Regions from separate parts of the Homo sapiens genome. Here region 2 is linked to region 1. The links come from fine-mapping of genetic effects on gene expression. A gene starts in region 1. The other region holds a variant in brackets. All regions are shown on one strand. Distances are from middle to middle.

Region 1 (5,392 bases):
ACCCATCTACAATCCAAGCTGAAAGTACATGGTTTACAATATGTTTTCTAGTTGCCTTTGTTGGGTTTGATGCTGATATACTTACACATCATCCCCAATGTCACCAGCCCAATCAGCAACATCAGGCAAAGAGTTACCAGACCCAGAGCAGCATGACGCCAAATGGGAGATGGAGCTGGATGCCCTGGAGAAAGCCAAAAGAGCAATCAGCACACAGAACTGCTTTGTGCTTGTTTCACTTTGGTTTGTTTATTTCTCCCACTTAGGGAGCTTCCCGATACTAACGTTTCTTTCTTGCTTCTTTAATGCCCTCATTTAGAAAATACCTAATATGAAGTGCAATGAGGGTGCCATCCTTGTTTCCCCTCCATTTCTCCACCGCTCTCCTTCACTTTAAGAGGAAGCTTCGTTGGGGGAGGGGGGAGGCATACCTTTAGGAGATATACCTAATGCTAAATGACGAGTTAATGGGTGCAGCACACCAGCATGGCACATGTATACATATGTAACTAACCTGCACATTGTGCACATGTACCCTAAAACTTAAAGTATAATAATAATAAAATAAAAAGGAAGCTTCTCCTAATTTCAAGGTTTTTGTTTTACATCATTGCCCACTTTTCTTCCTCAAGTTTATTGAATTCATAAATGAGAGATCTAAAAACTGCTTTTCTGGATGATGCTGACAGTAGGAGACACCTCAAGCTTTTGAGCTCAAAAGTCTCTATAAGGCACATGTTCTATCTGCCTTGTAAAAGTGGATTCGACTTTTTAAAGTATCTTTTACCTGTTAACAATAACTTATCTATTATTCATGCTATTTATCACCTAATAAATAATGAATGAATACTGAATGAAAGAAGGAAAGAATGTGCAGTCTAACCTACAAACAGCAGAATAGACCAGAAAGCCGTTAGCATCCTAGTCATTGTTGTTGTTTAAAATATCAATGGTTGTCATGTTTTCCTTAGCTTCATATCCCTTGATTTAGGTCCAAATAACATCTAGCGCAATGTTTTAGATACAGCATGACAGACTCTAGGTACACTGTGATATGCACCATATCCACACCTCCTTTTTCCTCACAGGTTAGAATTAGAATTAAAAAGTAAAACAAAACAAGGCAAAAATGTGTAACCACATTTATTAGACATATGCAAAGTCTATTCCCATCGGCTTTTTGTAAATATCCTTCCCTCAAATGTCATGCACCACACAAAATGTAAAGATAAATCTAGAGGGCAGGAGAAAGTAGTTCAGATGACTGACATGATTCAGGAGAACCTGGATAGTTAACATATCTGAAAATAAGAGATGTGGTCTTATATATTAAATCAGAGTCTTGACCATGGAGACTGCTATTTTTCCAATTAGGCATAAGAGAATGAGCTGAAGACCAGCACTGAGACTGGGCTTCCCCACATAGCAGTTGTGTGAGCTTGCTTAAATTATCTAATTTCTCTCACCCTCAGTTTTTTCATCTATGTAATGGAGAAAATACTAATATTCGAATATTATTGTGGATTTTCATTACAATTATATCTGTATATAATGTACATAAAATACTACCCAGATACTATTATTACTGGTTCAACATTACAAATTATGCTCGGATTTCAACTACCCTAAAATTTGAAAAAATACTGACAAAAGAAAAATTAGCTCTGATCTATTTCTAATCCACTCACTCATCTTCCAGTTTTCTCTTAAGTAACTTACATCATCTAAAAGAAAAACGTCCTCTACCTTCTCTATTTTAGAAGCCTCCAATCTGGTTTCTGAAAGAATATCCTCCTGGCATCTCTAACAAGGTATAAATATCAAGGATTATATTCATAAGAAGAAATCTCTAATTCCCCAAGCTCAATTTCTGGCATGTGCAGTCAGAATTTCTCTGACTGTGTGATATCACACAACTTTAAAGAGGTTCTGAAAGCCACATATTTTCACTTCAACCTTGGGAACACTCACTTTTCTAATACATTCCACAACTATTTGTCCCCATTTTGGAGATTTCACAGCACATGTCTTTAACGCCAGTATTAAAGCTGGCACCTCAAAGCATTTAACACCTGTCCACTCCCCCAAGGACACAGCTGGTCTTCTCTGAACTCCTACCTCTTTTTCTTAGGTTATTTCCATCTCGGTTATTCCTTGCTCCAGCAGAATCCTGAAATGTGAGTGTCGCGTAGGTCACTTCTTCAGACATTGTAGAAGAAAACGCTACTTTAAATTATCTAATTAATGTTTCAATATCTTGAGGCCTGGGAACAGCATGTGTTTTTCAAGGCTGGGAGCTTTGATGTAGTCACTCAGCTGACCCAGACACACTCTACTGCCCCTCTGTAAGAGAAGAATGACAATTTGTTTCTCTACAGAGAAAGTGAGAAAAGCCAAATATTCTCCTTAGAGATATTCTCATTAGAATGTTACAGATCTCAAACTGTCTGCTCTGTCAGAACTGTTTCTTGCTGTGCAGCAAAGAAGGGGTGCTTGAGGCAGAGCAGGAGGAACATGAGGGAATTCCCATGATCCTCGGGGTAGAGGATGCTCTGAATGTTTCAGAAAAGAGTCAGGTTGTCTTCTTTACATCTATCTAAGGCTAGCTAATCTGCCTGGAGACATTGGTTCTAGTTTATTCTCAGCCACATTAGATATTAAGCAGAGAGACACACATTAAGACAGAAAGAGCTGTGCCACACACCTGGCTGCTATTATAGAAAATTCAAGCGTGTGTGTGTGTGTGTGTGTGTGTGTGTGTGTGTGTGAGAGAGAGACAGAGAGAGACAGAGAGAGAGAGACAGAGAGAGAGAGACATGGTGTTGGTAATGGAGCATGGAGAAGAAACTGATAGCTACTTAGCTACTTAACGTGAGTATGAATGGGAGTGCCCTCTTCTGGCATGGTTGGGAAAGTTCCTAACAGAACAACAACCATGGGATAATCCTGCAGACAGCAAGGAATACACAGGACAAGATTTTAAAAAGATAACTACCGGAAGTTAATACATCTGTGGTAATTTGTTACAGCAGCAATATGTAGTTAATACAGAACCCAGGAAAATATGGGGGGGGAGCGCTATATATGAGGGACGAAATTAAGGAATCTCCTCTAAAGCTTTCCTTTGGGGAGAGGCAGAATATTAGATAACTGTACTTAGGGGAAGGATTGGGTATGAGTTTTGTGGTTTCAGATGAGTGGGGAGTGATCTAAAACTTCCAAGGTTCATATCTGTGTGGAGATTATCTTAGTCAAAGGTGTCCAGCGTGAGGTGCACTCACCCCACAGCTGTGAAGCAGATGCAGAAAGGCAATGTAAAAACTTTCTCTTTAGGAACGCTGTGCATGATCTCTAAACACCTAAATATACATATGTTACTTGTTCATGTTTTTTGTTTTTTTTTTTTTCAAATTGATGAAATAATCAAAAAAATGTTTGGAGGCTCTAAGTCATATATCAATAAAACTCCACTATCAAAAATATTGAAACAAATAATAAATCTATGCTTATGTTTACTATTCTAGTTGAATTCAGAAAAGGCAGAGACCATTGACATGAGGACCAGTTTAAATAGATGATTACAAAAATAAGAAATTAAGAATGGTTTTCTATCTCTGTTCTGGTCCGTGTCCGGAGTTGGTTCCTGCCGGTGGGTTCCTGGTCTCGCTGACTTCAAAAATGAAGCCGCGGACCTTTGCGGTGAGGGTTACACCTCTTAAAGATGGCACGGACCCAAAGACTGAGTGGTAGCAAGGTTTATTGTGAAGAGCAGGATGACAAACCTTCCACAGCATGGAAGGGGTCCCAAGCGGGTTGCTGCTGCTGGCTGGGGTGGCTAGCTTTTATTTCCTTACTGTCCCCTCCATGTTCCGTTTCTGTCGTATCAGACTGACCTTTTTTCAATCCTCACCGCAATTGGCTACTTTTAGAATCCTGCTGATTGGTGCGTTTTACAGAGCGCTGATCGGTGCGTTTTACGTGGCACTGATTGGTGCGTTTTACAATCCTCTTGTAAGACAGGAAAGTTCCCTGAGTCCCCACTCGATTCAGGAAGTCTGGCTGGCCTCACGTCTCATGACTTTCACCAGATTTTGCAAAAACTGGGTTTTCATCCTCATTTCCTTAATTCTTTCACATACCTTAAAGCTTCCTAACAAAGTATTAACTTCTCACTATCCATGAAATGATGCTTAGCTTGAACAATGATGAAGAATGTCACCTGATTCCTAATTATTTCTAAGAGAAGATTGATAACACTTCTCACATACTTTCTATTATTATGATCCAAAAAGCTATATCATCTATCATTATTAGTGTATGATCATATTAATTTAGACATTTCTTTATATACTTTTCTCCCTTAAAAACTTACAGCATTTCTGTAGCTTATTTTATCAGTTACACTATTTAAAAACTCACTTTGTTGCAGTCATTTACCAAATTCTCCTTATTTCTTCATTATTTTTTCAACTATCTTAAATCTTATTGATCTCTACTCCTATCATGATTATCATGTGATTTCGACATTCAGGTAGGTGATAATTCCAATACTATGGGCTCTCAGTTCTTGAATTTGCCTCCAATAACCTTACCCACACTCAGAAATCAGTTGCTCACACACAAAAATCAGTCACCCACTAGATGATCCTAGTTTAGAGCTAGGCTATTCACCGTAGTAATCACTAGGCATATAATTGCTATTTAAACTTAAATTAATTAAAATTAAATTAAATTTAAAATTTATTTCCTAGGTCACACTAGTCATACTTCAGGTACTTAACAGCCACAGGTGGCATTGGCTATGCAATTGGACAGTGCAGGTAAATAACATTTCCATTATTAGCAACGTGGCTATTGAACAGCACTGCACTAGAGTGCAGACAATTTCATTTCCAATATGAGAAATTCTTCCATGATCTGTTTCAGATATTTCACTCTCTGACCTCCACCTCCTATGTTTCCAGCCCACTCTCTCTGGGTATTCTACACTCTACAGCATTTCAGTGCCCACTGAGATAGCAACTTCACTGACCATGCCAACTTCTCATTGTTGTCAATCCCTCATGTCTCATTTCCTATTATACCCAGCATGCACCACTTACCAGGGCCAATTATAAAAATCGTTTTCTTACCCACAGCTACAACTTCCTTGCTTACCTCTTCATTCATCATAAGCATCTAGAAAATGCAGCTTGTTTAAATCCAACCCTACCTACTCTGTGCATACATTCAAGTAGCTGAATGTGATCATATTAACTGGTTTTATCTTACGTTTTTGAAATGTAACTTCTCAGCACTCTTACTAATCAATCTGTTCTGCAAATCTCCTAAAAGATTATTCCCAATCTCTTTTTCTTTCTCAGACTCTCAAATTTCTTTCTGTCTTCTCTTT
Region 2 (5,392 bases), 87 kb after region 1:
ATGCCAGGGGTTCAGTCTAGGTCCCATTGCTCAGGGCACAGAAAGCCAATCCCGGAGACAATGACTATTCCCGAATTAGGGAGGGGTAGGGAAGAAGAGTTGGTCAACAGGGAGCAGGTGGTCGGTTAGACAATCATGGCAGTGAGGAGTCCCTTGTCTGGAAGTGGTGATCTGGTGACTTTCGGTTTCCTGTTACTATCTGAGAGGACTAAAGGTCAGATTCCTAAAGAATGAACTCAAATAAGACAAATGTAAGTTTCAAGTTTTAAAACTAGGAGGATCAATTTCTATATTTATAAAAAAAAATCCCACATAAACATCAGTTCTATGGGCTTGTTACAGATAATTTTCTTTTTTAGAGTTTGTGAATTAGTGAGCTAATGTTAAATACACTATGCTCTGCTATTTGTATTTAATCCTCATTAGACTAGGATACAGGTATAAGAAAATCCATTTACAGATAAAAAATATACAGGACAGAATGAGTAAGTTGCCTCTCACAAATAATACATTCCAGACCTAGGATCAAACACCTTGGCTGTATAACTCTAATGCTTGATAAATTTTAAAAACCATGCAGCTTGACCTTCATAATTGTAGCATTCCTTTAATTTCTTTTTAATCAAGAGTAAGTTATGTCACTAATAGTTTGTTCTATAAAACTTTATTTATTTCTATTAGTTGGAATGCAAAATCTTACCTCTACCCGCTCAGGGTTTTTCTGCGGGCCTGAGAATGAAATTGACACAAGACACATCAACTTGAGCAAAGCACATGCGTTTAGTTAATATAAGTTTGACGTGACATGCACGTCTTCCTTATGAAAGCCTAAAGATGCAGGTAGAGTTGAACACTTATATATTGAATTCAACAAAGGGTAATAAATTATGAAAATGTGGCAAGGCAAAGAGGTTTGATCTAGGGTAATTAATTGGGTAGAAAAGTGACCGGAAAGATAAATGTTAAATTAACAAATGTTGTTTGCACACATTTCCTTTGGCCTCAACTACCTATCCTTGACTATAAGAATGTTGCTTTCCTTCTGGTATAGAGAAGATATCTTTCACAAAGGTATTTTATCTCCTGCTTATAAGAAAAATAAGGAAGCTCAGAGTGTTTTCTCTTGCATCTGCTGTTTTAAAAGTGCGTTTAACTCAAAAGAGTCTATATGCCTGAGTGACATATTTCGGGGCATCATGTTCTGAACTCCTTCACTATCATATTAAGTTAAATGAAAAAAAACAAAGAAATAACGGCATATGTGACCTTTTGCAAGACTGTCTCATTGGAATTGCAATATTTGTAAAAATGAAGTTGTTAAATTTCCTCTGGGTTCTATGGGTTTATTTTGTGAAAAAGATCCAAAGGTAGAATTTAATTCCTGAGCCATGGCCAAATAGTCCCCAGCACTTGATTTTCCATATGCATGGTTTGCTTAATTTAGCACTTATATTTGGCTAAGTAGCACTGCTCTTTGTTTTGTTTTGGTTTGATTGGGTTGGGTTGGGTTGGGTTGGGTTGGGTTTCGGTCATTCTCAAGAATACTGATAGTCTTCTTGTTTATAGTCTCTACTGTCAGTGTAGTCTTAGAGCTTAATGTTATTGCTGTCTAAACATCTGGAAGTTAAATATAGACAAGAGTTTCTACAGTAAGTTTTTATGTTCATTTATTCATTGATTAAAAAGAGCAGAAAGACAAAAGAAGACATTTATGTGGCCAGTAAACATATAAAGAAAAGCTCATCATCACTGGTCAGTAGAGAAATGCAAATCAAAACCACATGAGATACCATCTCAGGCCAGTCAGTATGGCGATTATTATTTTTTCTTTTTTTCTTTTTTTTATTATTATACTTTAAGTTCTAGGGTACATGTGCACAATGTGCAGGTTTGTGTTACATATGTATACATGTGCCATGTTGGTGTGCTGCACCCATTAACTCGTCATTTACATTAGATATATCTCCTAATGCTATCCCTCCCCACTCTCCCAACCCCACGACAGGGGGGCTATCCCTCCCCACTCCCCCAACCCCAACATCACCCCAATGTGTGATATTCCCGTCCCTGTGTCCATGTGTTCTCATTGTTCAATTCCCACCTATGAGTGAGAACATGTGGTGTTTGGTTTTCTGTCCTTGCCATAGTTTGCTGAGAATGATGGTTTCCAGCTTCATCCATGTCCCTACAAAGGACATGAACTCATCCTTTTTTAAGGCTGCATAGTATTCCATGGTGTATATGTGCCACATTTTCTTAATCCAGTCTATCATTGATGGGCACTTGGTTTGGTTCCAAGTCTTTGCTATTGTGAATAGTGCCACAATAAACATACGTGTG[T/C]ATGTGTCTTTATAGCAGCATGATTTATAATCCTTCGGGTATATACCCAGTAATGGAATGGCTGGGTCAAATGGTATTTCTAGTTCTAGATCCCTGAGGAATCGCCACACTGTCTTCCACAATGGTTGAACTAGTTTACAGTCCCACCAACAGTGTAAAAGTATTCCTATTTCTCCACATCCTCTCCAGCACCTGTTGTTTCCTGACTTTTTAATGATCACCATTCTAACTGGTGCGAGATGATATCTCATTGTGGTTTTGATTTGCATTTCTTTGATGGCCAGTGATGATGAGCGTTTTTTCCTGTGTCTGTTGGCTGCGTAAATGTCTTCTTTGAGAAGTGTCTGTTCATATCCTTCACCCACTTTTTGATGGGATTGTTTTTTTCTTGTAAATTTGTTTAAGTTCTTTGTAGATTCTGGATATTAGTCCTTTGTCAAATGGATAGATTGCAAAATACCTAATGCATGCGGGGCTTCAAACCTAGAAGATGGGTTGATAGGTGCAGCAAGCCACCATGGCACATGTATACCAACGTCACAAACCTGCACACTCTGCAGATTTATCCCAGAACTTAAAGTTTAACAAAACAAAACACAACAAAAAGAGCACAGAGACAGAGTTGAAACACATTATATCTTACACCCTGTGTAGTAGCCTGTATCCACTTCTGAGCACTACAAAATAATAATAATAATAATAAATCATGGTGGAGTAGGGGGTGCAGCCTTTGGAGTTTGCCCTACATTTGAGCATATAGTTGGCTCTTTATTACTTGCATTAATTTATTCAAACATGTGGAATGCATGGACTTGTCTTATTCTGAATACTTAGCACCTAAATAAAACCTTGAGACAGTAAATCTCCAAACAATGTGCTTTCATTATTATTCCATATTCTTCAGCACTGGATGTAAATGAAATGAAACAAAGGTTTCACTAATTCTTATGTTTCACTTATGTGTTGTCCTTTATGGCAAGTTTCACTTTCCTAGCTTGGGTGTTTTCATAGGTAAAGGAAAGCCTCCATTTCTTACCCTAACCTCGAAACCTAAATTACATGCAGATCTCCAGCACTCTACCTTGATTGCAGAATTTATAGCTACATTTTATGCATTGTTTTTGGCAGGATATTAATATAGATTATGAGAAGCTAGTGGTTCCATTTCTCAAAATAGAAGCCAGGGAAATAGAAAAAAGTATGCACTGCTTGATCACTAAATGATCTTCCTTACAGACAGGGGAAGTTAATTCATCCTCATTCTGGGGAGGGGGGAAGCTAACTTACGGGCCTCAAACTGTGGAAGCAAAAAGTAAAATTAATACACCTGAATGAGTAGAAACACTTTTTAACATATGCTTTATCTGATCATTTCTTTCTTTTTTTTTCAGCCACATGGTCCAAGCATGCTAAACCTGTGGCATGTTCAGGGGACTGGCTTGGAGTGAGAGATAAGTGTTTCTATTTTTCTGATGATACCAGAAATTGGACAGCCAGTAAAATATTTTGTAGTTTGCAGAAAGCAGAACTTGCTCAGATTGATACACAAGAAGACATGGTAAGAAAACAGAAAAGTCTTCAGTAATTTCAGAGATTGTTTGTATAAAAACATAATAAAACAATAATAGCTAATACTATAATACAATTGATCCTTGAACAACATGGGTTTGAACTGTGTGGGTTCACTTATACCTGGATTATTTTTCCTCTGCCACCCTTGAGACAGCAAGAGCAAACCCTCCTCTTCTTCCCCCTCCTCAGCCTACTCAATATGAAAACAACGAGGATGAAGACTTTTACGATGTCTTCACTTCCACTTAATGAATAGTAAATAGATTTTCTCTTTCTTGTGATTTTCTTAATAACATCTTCTTTTCTCTAGCTTCCTTTATGGTAATAATACAGCATATAATTCAAATAACATGAAAATATATGTTAATTTACTTTTATGTTACCAGTAAGACTTCCAGTCAACAGCAGGCTACTAGTGGCTAAGTTTTCTGTTTTTGTTTTTTGTTTGTTTGTTTGTTTGTTTTTAAGACAGAGTCTCACTCTGGCACCTAGGCTGGAGTGCAGTGGTGCAATCTCAGCTCACTGTAGCCTTGAATTCCTGGGATCAAGCAATCCTCCCACCTTAGCCTCCTGAGTAGCTGGGACTACAGGTGCAGACCACCACTCCTGGCTAATTTTGTTTATTTTTTGTAGAGATGAGGTCTCACTATGTTGTCCAGGCTGGTCTCAAACTGAGATCAAGCAATTCTACTGCCTCAGCCTCCCAAAGTGCTAGAATTAGCATGAGATACCATAAACAGCATGGTTAACTTTTTGAGGAGTCAAAAGTTATATACAGACTTTTGACTGCACAGGCGGTCAGTGCCCCTAACTGCCACATTGTTTGAGTCAACTGTGTATGACAATGTGTGCTCAACAGTGTTCTAAGCACTGAAACTATATAATCTCATGTAATCTTCTACTAACACCCATGAAGGAGTTATATAACTCTCCCTACTTTAAAGATGAGGAAAGTCAGTCACAGAAATGTTATGTAACCCAGCCAATGACACAGCCATAAGTTGTTGGGCTGGGATTTGAACCCAGGCAAGATGACTAGTGATGCCATGTCCTTTACCACAATGCATACTGTTTATGTATCTAAATGTCTTCGTTAAATGTTCTTAGATTATTAAGTAGATTTTTTAAACCCTTTTCAATTTGCATTCTACCAAGCATAGACAGAAAAAATTTTTAAAAATACAGCTCTTAGAATTTAGAGACAAGGAAATGAAGGAAATATGTGCACTTCGAAGACGCGAGTGAATTAATGGAAGTAAAGAGGGCAAAGAAGGAGACACGTGGACTCTAGGGACACAGAGTAAGAAAATAGATTAGTTTTTAAAGAAAAGCTGGGGGTTGGAGAGTGGCCAAGATGGCCGACTAGAAGTAGCTGGAGTGCGCAGCTCTCAAAGAGAGGAACTGAAGGGGTGAGTAAATACAGCACTTTGAACTGAAACATCCAGGGTACACGCAATGGAACTAATCAAGGAAACAACTC

Evidence for each region. PIP is the estimated chance that this variant, and not a neighbour inherited with it, causes the effect. A credible set is the group of variants that fine-mapping cannot tell apart.
Region 2: its variant is the best candidate, but not a certain one, in a credible set for the expression of CLEC12B in sigmoid colon (GTEx, PIP 0.66).

What each region holds. Positions count from the first base shown.
Region 1 is chr12:10,007,577-10,012,968 of GRCh38, reverse strand. CLEC12B (C-type lectin domain family 12 member B) reads right to left here and starts at 2,342. Exons shown (of 6, transcript NM_001129998.3): 1 at 2,119-2,342; 2 at 86-184. The coding sequence starts at 2,209.
Region 2 is chr12:9,920,572-9,925,963 of GRCh38, reverse strand. It overlaps CLEC2A (C-type lectin domain family 2 member A), which reads left to right. Exons shown (of 5, transcript NM_001130711.2): 3 at 3,732-3,898. Among named protein-coding and RNA genes, the nearest start is that of CLEC2A, 9.1 kb to the left of the region's middle. The variant T/C (reference allele first, on the strand shown) is at 2,341.